Regions from separate parts of the Homo sapiens genome. Here all the other regions are linked to region 3. Evidence: fine-mapped expression QTL. A gene starts in region 3. Each other region holds a variant in brackets. All regions are shown on one strand. Distances are from middle to middle.

Region 1 (2,759 bases), 85 kb before region 3:
AAAAATAGGAACCCCCCAAAAAAAGATTAGACAGTATATTACTTCAACTACGTGAAATTTATAGAAAAGGTAAACTGTAAAGAAGGAAAAAAAGCAACATCATTTGTTGACTAGGTCTGGAGGTGGGGACAAGGATTGACTGAGTACAAAGAGGCACAAACTTTTTGGTAAAACGGAAATTCTAAAAGAATTCTAGTGATGCTAAAACTGATCAAACTGTGTATAGTTTATAACACAAATTATACAGTTATGTGTTAATTTTTTATATGTAGATTATACTGCAATAAGCTATTAAAGCGGTAGGCGTGGGCGGGGAGGGTACAATCAAAAAGAAGAAAACATATGTCTCAAATTATGCTAATAGTTTTGATAAAATAAGAAATGAGCAATGATCACTGGATTTAGCTACTCTGGGGAGTATTAGTAGCCTCCGTAAGTGTAATTTTGGTGTTATGGTTAGCATGAAAACCCAACAACAATAGGACCTGAAAAATGGAAGCAACAAATACACATAATTATTACATGGAATTTTGCAGTAAAGAAGTAAAGAAATATAGTGGTAACTGGAGGAGAATATGCAGTCAAGAGTAGGCTGGTTTGGTTGCTTTGTTTTTAAAGGGAAAAATAGGCCGGGCATGGTGGCTCATGCCTGTAATTCCAGCATTTTGGGAGGCTGAGGCAGATGGATCACTTGAGGTGAGGAGTTAGACATCAGCCTGGCCAACATAATGAAACCCCATCTCTACTAAAAATACAAAAATTAGCTGGTCATGTTGGCAAACTCCTGTAGTTCCAGCTAATGGGGAGGCTGAGGCAGGAGAATCGCTTGAACTCGGGAGGTGGAGGTTGCAGTGAGCCAAGATGGCTCACTGCACTCCAGCCTGGGTGACACAGTGAAACTCCATCTAAATAAATAAGTAAATAAAGGGGAAAATAGTGTGCTTTTATGGTAATAAGAACGATCAATAGAGAATGGATTGAGTGGGAGAAAATCTATAGAATTGCCAGAGCAATGTTCTTGAGTACATAATAGGAGGCAATGGTTGAAACTGCATGACAAGGGCCAGGTGCAGTGGCTCACACCTGTAATCCTAGCACTTTGGGAGGCTGAGGCGGGTGGATCACAAGGTCAGGAGTTCGAGACCAGCCTGGCCAAGATGGTGAAACCCTGTCTCTACTAAAAATACAAAAATTAGCCGGGTGCAGTGGCGGGTGCCTGTAATCCCAGCTACACGGGAAGCTGAGGCAGGAAAATTGCTTGAACTCAAGAGGCAGAGGTTGCAGTAAGTCGAGATTGTGCCACTGCACTCTAGCCTGGGTGACAGAGCAAGACTCCATCTCAAAAAAAAAAAAAAAAGAAAAGAAAAACAAAAAAAATTGCATGACACGGCCTGGTGCAGTGACTCACACCTGTAATCCCAGCACTTTGGGAGGCTGAGGCGGGTGGATCACATGAGGTCAGGAGTTCGAGACCAGCCTGGCCAACATGCTGAAAGCCTGTCTCTACTAAAAATACAAAAACTTAGCTGGGCATAGTGGTGAGTGCCTGTAATCCCAGCAACTTGGGAGGCTGAGGCAAGAGAATCGCTTGAACCCAGGAGGCAGAGGTTGCAGTGAGCTGAGATTGCGCCATTGCACTCCAGCCTGGGCAACAAGAGCGAAACTCAATCT[C/CA]AAAAAAAAAAAAAAAGAAAGAAATTGTATGACAGAATCAACAGACGGATAGTTCATCCAGGGTATTAGGGGAGACGATAAAATACAGGGGTAAAAAAGCAGAGACATGAGTAGATATAGAGAGCTTATAATACTTCTTGTCTGATAGCTTCATTTCCTTGGAAACGGAGGAAGCAGTGTCATCAACTGGGTGTTAAGATGCAGGAGGAGGTGTTAGAAATTTGAGGACATGGGAGAAAGAAAGAAATAGTTGTCATGGAGAATGATAGAGAATGAATAGTGCAGTATAGTATGACTGCCAGCCAGAGCATGGATTTAAAGCTAGAATAATTGGCAGGTTTTTCTCCAACCACCATTAGAAGTACGGGCATACAGGAACAAGCTTGATGAAAAGTCGGATTTAACCAGAACTGTCCTAGCCACATGAGGACAGAAAATAAGAAGGAGCAAGAAATTTGAGAGTGTATTTGAGGAAAGTATTAGAATGATTAACCATGGAATTTAATCTAGGTATGAAGAAAAGAGGCTATCAGGAGAGTGAGAGACTGTGCAAAGGTGTAGCGTTTGGAAGGATCAATAGATTGTAGGTCCTGGTAGTGTTTTGACTAATTGTTGGAACTGGAGTAGAAAAGGTGTGAGCTGGAAAAATAAGACGTGAAAATTTTCCTTATGAAATTTATTTGATAATTCCTTCAATTTAATGTTTAATTTTCCTATTTTATTTTCTCTTTATGAAGTATCTCTTAGCTATGTGTTTAACCTCTTGGGTTGTTCTGTTTAATTTTCTTTCCTCTATTTTTCTGTCTTTTTAGGTTCCTTGTTTCAACCCTTTTTATTTTATTTTATTTATTTTTTGAGAGACTCTCGCTCTGTCTGTCACCCAGGCTGGAGTGCAGTGGCACAATCTCAGCTCACTGCAACCTCCACCTCCCGGGTTCAAATGATTCTCCTGCCTCATCCTCCTAGCTAGGATTACAGGCGCGCCACCAAACCTAGCTAATTTTTGTATTTTTAGTAGAGATGGGGTTTCACCATGTTTGCCAGGCTGGTCTTGAACTCCTGACCTCAGGTGATCTGCCCGCCTTGGC
Region 2 (2,759 bases), 300 kb before region 3:
ACAAAGCCTCCAAGAAATATGGGACCATGTGAAAAGATCAAATCTACATCTGATTGGTGTACCTGAAACTGATGGGGAGAATGGAACCAAGTTGGAAAACACTCTGCAGGATATTATCCGGGAGAACTTCCCCAATCTGGCAAGGCAGGCCAACATTCAAATTCAGGAAATACAGAGAACGCCACAAAGATACTCCTCGAGAAGAGCAACTCCAAGACATACAATCGTCAGATTCACCAAAGTTGAAATGAAGGAAAAAATGTTAAGGGCAGCCAGAGAGAAAGCTCGGGTTACCCACAAAGGGAAGCCCATCAGACTAACAGCGGATCTCTTGGCAGAAACTCTACAAGCCAGAAGACAGTGGGGGCCAATATTCAACATTCTCAAAGAAAAGAATTTTCAACCTAGAATTTCATATCCAGCCAAACTAAGCTTCATAAGTGAAGGAGAAATAAAATCCTTTACAGACAAGCAAATGCTGAGAGATTTTGTCACCACCAGACCTGCCCTAAAAGAGCTCCTGAAGGAAGCACTAAACATGGAAAGGAACAACCAGTACAAGCCACTGCAAAAACATGCCAAATTGTAAAGACCATCGAGGCTAGGAAGAAACTGCATCAACTAACGAGCAAAATAACCAGCTAACATCATAATGACAGGATCAAATTCACACATAACAGTAATAACCTTAAATGTAAATGGGCTAAATGCTCCAATTAAAAGACACAGACTGGCAAATTGGATAAAGAGTCAAGACCCATCAGTGTGCTGTATTCAGGAAACCCATCTCATGTGCAGAGACACGCATAGGCTCAAAATAAAGGGATGGAGGAAGATCTACCAAGCAAATGGAAAACAAAAAAAGGCAGGCGTTGCAATCCTAGTCTCGGATAAAACAGACTTTAAACCAACAAAGATCAAAAGAGACAAAGAAGGCCATTACATAATGGTAAAGGGATCAATTCAACAAGAAGAGCTAACTATCCTAAATATATACGCACCCAATACAGGAACACTCAGATTCATAAAGCAAGTCCTTAGAGACCTACAAAGAGACTTAGTCTCCCACACAATAATAATCAGAGACTTTAACACCCCACTGTCAACACTAGACAGATCTACGAGACAGAAAGTTAACAAGGATATCCAGGAACTGAACCCAGCTCTGCACCAAGCAGACCTAACAGACATCTATAGAACTCTCCACCCCAAATCAACAGAATATACATTGTTTTCAGCACCACACCTATTCCAAAATTGACCACATAGTTGGAAGTAAAGCACTCCTCAGCAAATGTAAAAGAACAGAAATTATAACAAACT[G/C]TCTCTCAGACCACAGTGCAATCAAACTAGAACTCAGGATTAAGAAACTCACTCAAAACCGCATAACTACATGGAAACTGAACAACCTGCTCCTAATGACTACTGGGTACATAATGAAATGAACGCAGAAATAAAGATGTTCTTTGGAATCAATGAGAACGAAGACACAACATACCAGAATCTCTGGGATACATTCAAAGCAGTGTGTAGAGGGAAATTTATACCACTAAATGCCCACAAGAGAAAGCAGGAAAGATCTAAAATTGACACCCTAACATCACAATTAAAAGAACTAGAGAAGCAAGAGCAAACACATTCAAAAGCCAGCAGAAGGCAAGAAATAACTAAGATCAGAGTAGAACTGAAGGAAATAGAGACACAAAAAACCCTTCAAAAATTCAATGAATCCAGGAGCTGGTTTTTTGAAAAGATCAACAAAATTGATAGACCGCTAGCAGGACTAATAAAGAAGAAAAGAGAAGAATCAAATAGACGCAATAAAAAATGATAAAGGGGATATCACCACCGATCCCACAGAAATACAAACTACCATCAGAGAATACTATAAACACCTCTATGCAAATAAACTAGAAAATCTAGAAGAAATGGATAAATTCCTCAACACATACACCCTCCCAAGACTGAACCAGGAAGAAGTTGAATCTCTGAATAGACCAATAACAGGCTCTGAAATTGAGGCAATAATTAATAGCTTACCAACCAAAAAAAGTCCAGGACCAGATGGATTCACAGCCAAATTCTACGAGAGGTACAAGGAAGAGCTGGTACCATTCCTTCTGAAACTATTCCAATCAATAGAAAAAGAGGGAATCCTCCCTAACTCACTTTATGAGGCCAGCATCATCCTGATACCAAAGCCTGGCAGAGACACAACAAAAAAAGAGAATTTTAGACCAATATCCCTGATGAACATTGATGCAAAAATCCTCAATAAAATACTGGCAAACCGAATCCAGCAGCACATCAAAAAGCTTATCCACCATGATCAAGTGGGCTTCATCCCTGGGAAGCAAGGCTGGTTCAACATACGAAAATCAATAAACGTAATCCAGCATATAAACAGAACCAAAGACAAAAACCACATGATTATCTCAATAGATGCAGAAAAGGCCTTTGACAAAATTCAACAACCCTTCATGCTAAACACTCTCAATAAATTAGGTATTGATGGGATTTATCTCAAAATAATAAGAGCTATCTATGACAAACCCACAACCAATATCATACTGAATGGACAAAAACTGGAAGCATTCCCTTTGAAAACTGGCACAAGACAGGGATGCCCTGTCTCACCACTCCTATTCAACATAGTGTTGGAAGTTCTGGCCAGGGCAATGAGGCAGGAGAAGGAAAAAAAGGGCATTCAATTAGGAAAAGAGGAAGTCAAATTGTCCCTGTTTGCAGATGACATGATT
Region 3 (2,759 bases):
TCTGCCACCACGTCCGGCTAATGTGTGTGTGTGAGTTTTTAGCAGACACAAGATTTCACCATGTTGCCCAGGCTGGTCTCGAACTCCTGACCTCAAGTAATCCTCCCGCCTCGGCCTCCCAAAGTGCTAGGATTACAGGTCTGAGCCACCGCGCCTGTCTGCCACTCGTTTAATAAATGGTCGTTACTCAAAGAGTGGTGATGGGGCCACTCTTGATTATCAATCCTTCAAACAGAAAAGCCCTTTTCTGTGACTCTTTTCCTTCCAAGCTGACTTTAGAAGTGTGTTTGTGGCCGGGCGCGGTGGCTCACGCCTGTAATCCCAGCACTTTGGGAGGCCAAGGTGGGCGGATCACGAGGTCAGGAGATCGAGACCATCCTGGCCAACATGGTGAAACCCCGTCTCTACTAAAAATACAAAAAATTAGCTGGGCTGAGTGGCGCGCGCCTGTAATCCCAGCTACTCCGGAGGCTGAGACAGGAGAATGGCGTGAATCAGTGAGCCAAGATCCCACCACTGCACTCCAGCCTGGGGACAGAGCAAGACTCCGTCTCAAAAAAAAAAAAAAAAAGTGTGTCTGTAAATGTAGTTCAGAACTTCGGAGCCCTGTCTTTACAGTTCAAACTGACCACGCGAAGACTAAAGGCAGTAGAGGTACTTTCTACAAATTTAGCCGTGCAATCTAATAGCGAGCAGGCCGAGACGCCCGCGATTGAAGGCCGGGGTGGAGAAAGTAATAAGGGCCCTGGAAATTACCCCCATCCCATGTCACCCACTCTTTCTTAAAATGCCATTAAATTCCGTTCAACTTTTTATCTCCCATGCAAGAAACTAGCGACTTGCCAGCCACGCCACTTCCAGCCAGTCACACCTGGCGTATTCGCCGCAGAATCTCCAACTCCCGCCACAGGTTTGGGACGTGTCCGCCCCTAAGCGGAAGTGACGTTCAACGGGACAACGTGAAAGTAGATGAGTTTAAATACGTACTAATAATTTAAAACCCCTATGGTATTTTGAGGAAACTCTTCCGGCTACCCTTCTTCCATCACTTCTCTCCCGTTAGGGTTGCGAAAAGGGCTCTGTACAGCCTCGCGACAACTCGTTCTCCGCCCTAATTTCAAGTCATTCAAAACTCTGTCCCTTTTCATTGGCTGAAGCGGCGGCATGGGTACCTCTCAGGAACTACAATTCCAGCCAAGCACCGCGACAAGTGAACGGAGGAGAAGTTATGAGTAGGGGAAAAGCATGTTGGGAATCGTAGTCCGCTCCAGGCCGAAAAGAGCAATCACCCCGCCCTCCGCCACTGAAGCTGGAGAAACCAGGTGTTCGTTTCAGAACCCGTTAGCGCTAAGGGGAGGAGCCAACCCCTTAAGCAGCATGCCTCACTTCGCCCCACATGGAGGATAATTTTCCTTTACCCCTAAAAAGCACTATAAATACCCACTGAGGAGATCTGGTTGTCTTTTAAATACCTCGAGTCAGTAAAAACTCACGAAACTCCGCACCTCAGGCTCCAACTCGTGGGAAAAGGTAGCTCTTTTACAAGTGGGCAAAATGGCTGTCCTCCTAGTTTTACCATTGGTTGGCTTTTGCGTCCTTCAAGGGCGGTTACTTACCACGGATTGGTTCTTTTTCTCTTGAGGTTGGAGGAAGATTTGGCACGGCTCTCCGCGGCCTGGGAGGAGGTAAAGGGGTGGAGAGAAGACAGTTTTTTTCAAGCTTGATTGGGCAAAACTCATGTCACTCCGGGGACGTACAACCTATGAATAGTCGGCTGCCGCTCAAAGAGAACGAAGAGGCGGGGCTAGTGCGTGGTGGGAAGGGGCGGGATTCTGCCAGCCGCGGCTGCCGCTGGAGCCGGTGTCCGGGCTGGTGATGGGGTTAATTCCCTTTCGTAAGACTCTTACTTGCACCCACCCAGCCCCGCCGTCGCCCCGCCGCGCCGCGCTCCAACCGCCTCCTCCTCCTCAGTAACGCGGGTAAGAGATGCCCTTCCCTCCCCCGTCCAGCTCCCCGGGAATAACGCGCCTTGCTCCCCTCCCCCGCCCGCCAACCGGTAGCGCTAACGGAGAAGGAGGCAGGCAGGGGAGAGATGTGGTGTGTGGAAAGGTGGCCTTCCCCGCCGGGTCGTCGGCGCTTCAGCCAGGGCCTTCTGACGTCCCGCTGCTGCCAGCCCGCCGTTAGGTCGGGTTCCGAGTGAGCCAGGCTCGCCTGGCCCGCGGCTGCGGCTCCGGCTGCAGCTGCAGCCACTGCCTTGTGCCCACCGCCCCCACCCGGGGGCCATGTGAAAAGCAAACCCCTCGAGGCCTAGCGGAGGAGGCAGGGGAAAGGTTTCCGAGTCCCTGCCATGGCTGCTGCTGCTGCCTCCGCGGCTGCTCTTGCAGCCCCAGGGACTCGGGAGCCAGCCACAGCAGGCCTGCCAAGAGCGTGGTACTGCTCTCTCGTGTGGCTGGCGCCGGTGCCCCGGGCTCCCCCGGCCGCCCCACGGCCGCATCCCCTGGCCTTGCACCAAGAGAATTTTCAGCTTCGACCGGTTGGTAAAATGTAGGTACATTTTCCCTGTGGTACCAGAAAAAGCACAATGGGAATATTAAAAAGAAAGTTGAATGACTGTCAGTGCCACGGTCCCCCGGGATCAGATTTACACACGTTTTGATTCCTGAGCCTTAGGCTGCCAACAAATCTTTGTGGGCTTTGAAGTTTTTTGGTGTTTTGTTTTCTTTTGTTGCTGTGACTAGGTGCAAAGGGTGACTCTGTTG

Direction of the effects. Alleles are on the strand shown, and positions count from the first base shown. SD is a standard deviation of normalised expression in the study named.
With allele CA in place of C in region 1, the expression in lymphoblastoid cells of the gene that starts at base 1,564 in region 3 is lower (moderate effect, 0.57 SD a copy in GEUVADIS).
For the expression in neural progenitor cells of the gene that starts at base 1,564 in region 3, G is the high allele of the variant in region 2 and C is the other (large effect, 1.2 SD a copy in Aygun 2021).

Evidence for each region. PIP is the estimated chance that this variant, and not a neighbour inherited with it, causes the effect.
Region 1: its variant is the best candidate, but not a certain one, in a credible set for the expression of ZRANB3 in lymphoblastoid cells (GEUVADIS, PIP 0.80).
Region 2: its variant is the best candidate, but not a certain one, in a credible set for the expression of ZRANB3 in neural progenitor cells (Aygun 2021, PIP 0.65).

Annotation. Positions count from the first base shown.
Region 1 is chr2:135,444,535-135,447,293 of GRCh38, forward strand. The region is part of intron 2 of ZRANB3 (zinc finger RANBP2-type containing 3); the gene reads right to left. Among named protein-coding and RNA genes, the nearest start is that of ZRANB3, 85 kb to the right of the region's middle. The variant C/CA (reference allele first, on the strand shown) is at 1,672.
Region 2 is chr2:135,233,264-135,236,022 of GRCh38, forward strand. The region is part of intron 12 of ZRANB3 (zinc finger RANBP2-type containing 3); the gene reads right to left. Among named protein-coding and RNA genes, the nearest start is that of SNORA40B, 98 kb to the left of the region's middle. The variant G/C (reference allele first, on the strand shown) is at 1,324.
Region 3 is chr2:135,529,655-135,532,413 of GRCh38, forward strand. It overlaps ZRANB3 (zinc finger RANBP2-type containing 3), which reads right to left and starts at 1,564. Exons shown (of 21, transcript NM_032143.4): 1 at 1,473-1,564. R3HDM1 (R3H domain containing 1) reads left to right here and starts at 1,830. Exons shown (of 27, transcript NM_001378107.1): 1 at 1,830-1,979. RefSeq lists enhancers at 877-956, 1,307-1,576, 1,545-1,839 and a silencer at 1,807-1,996.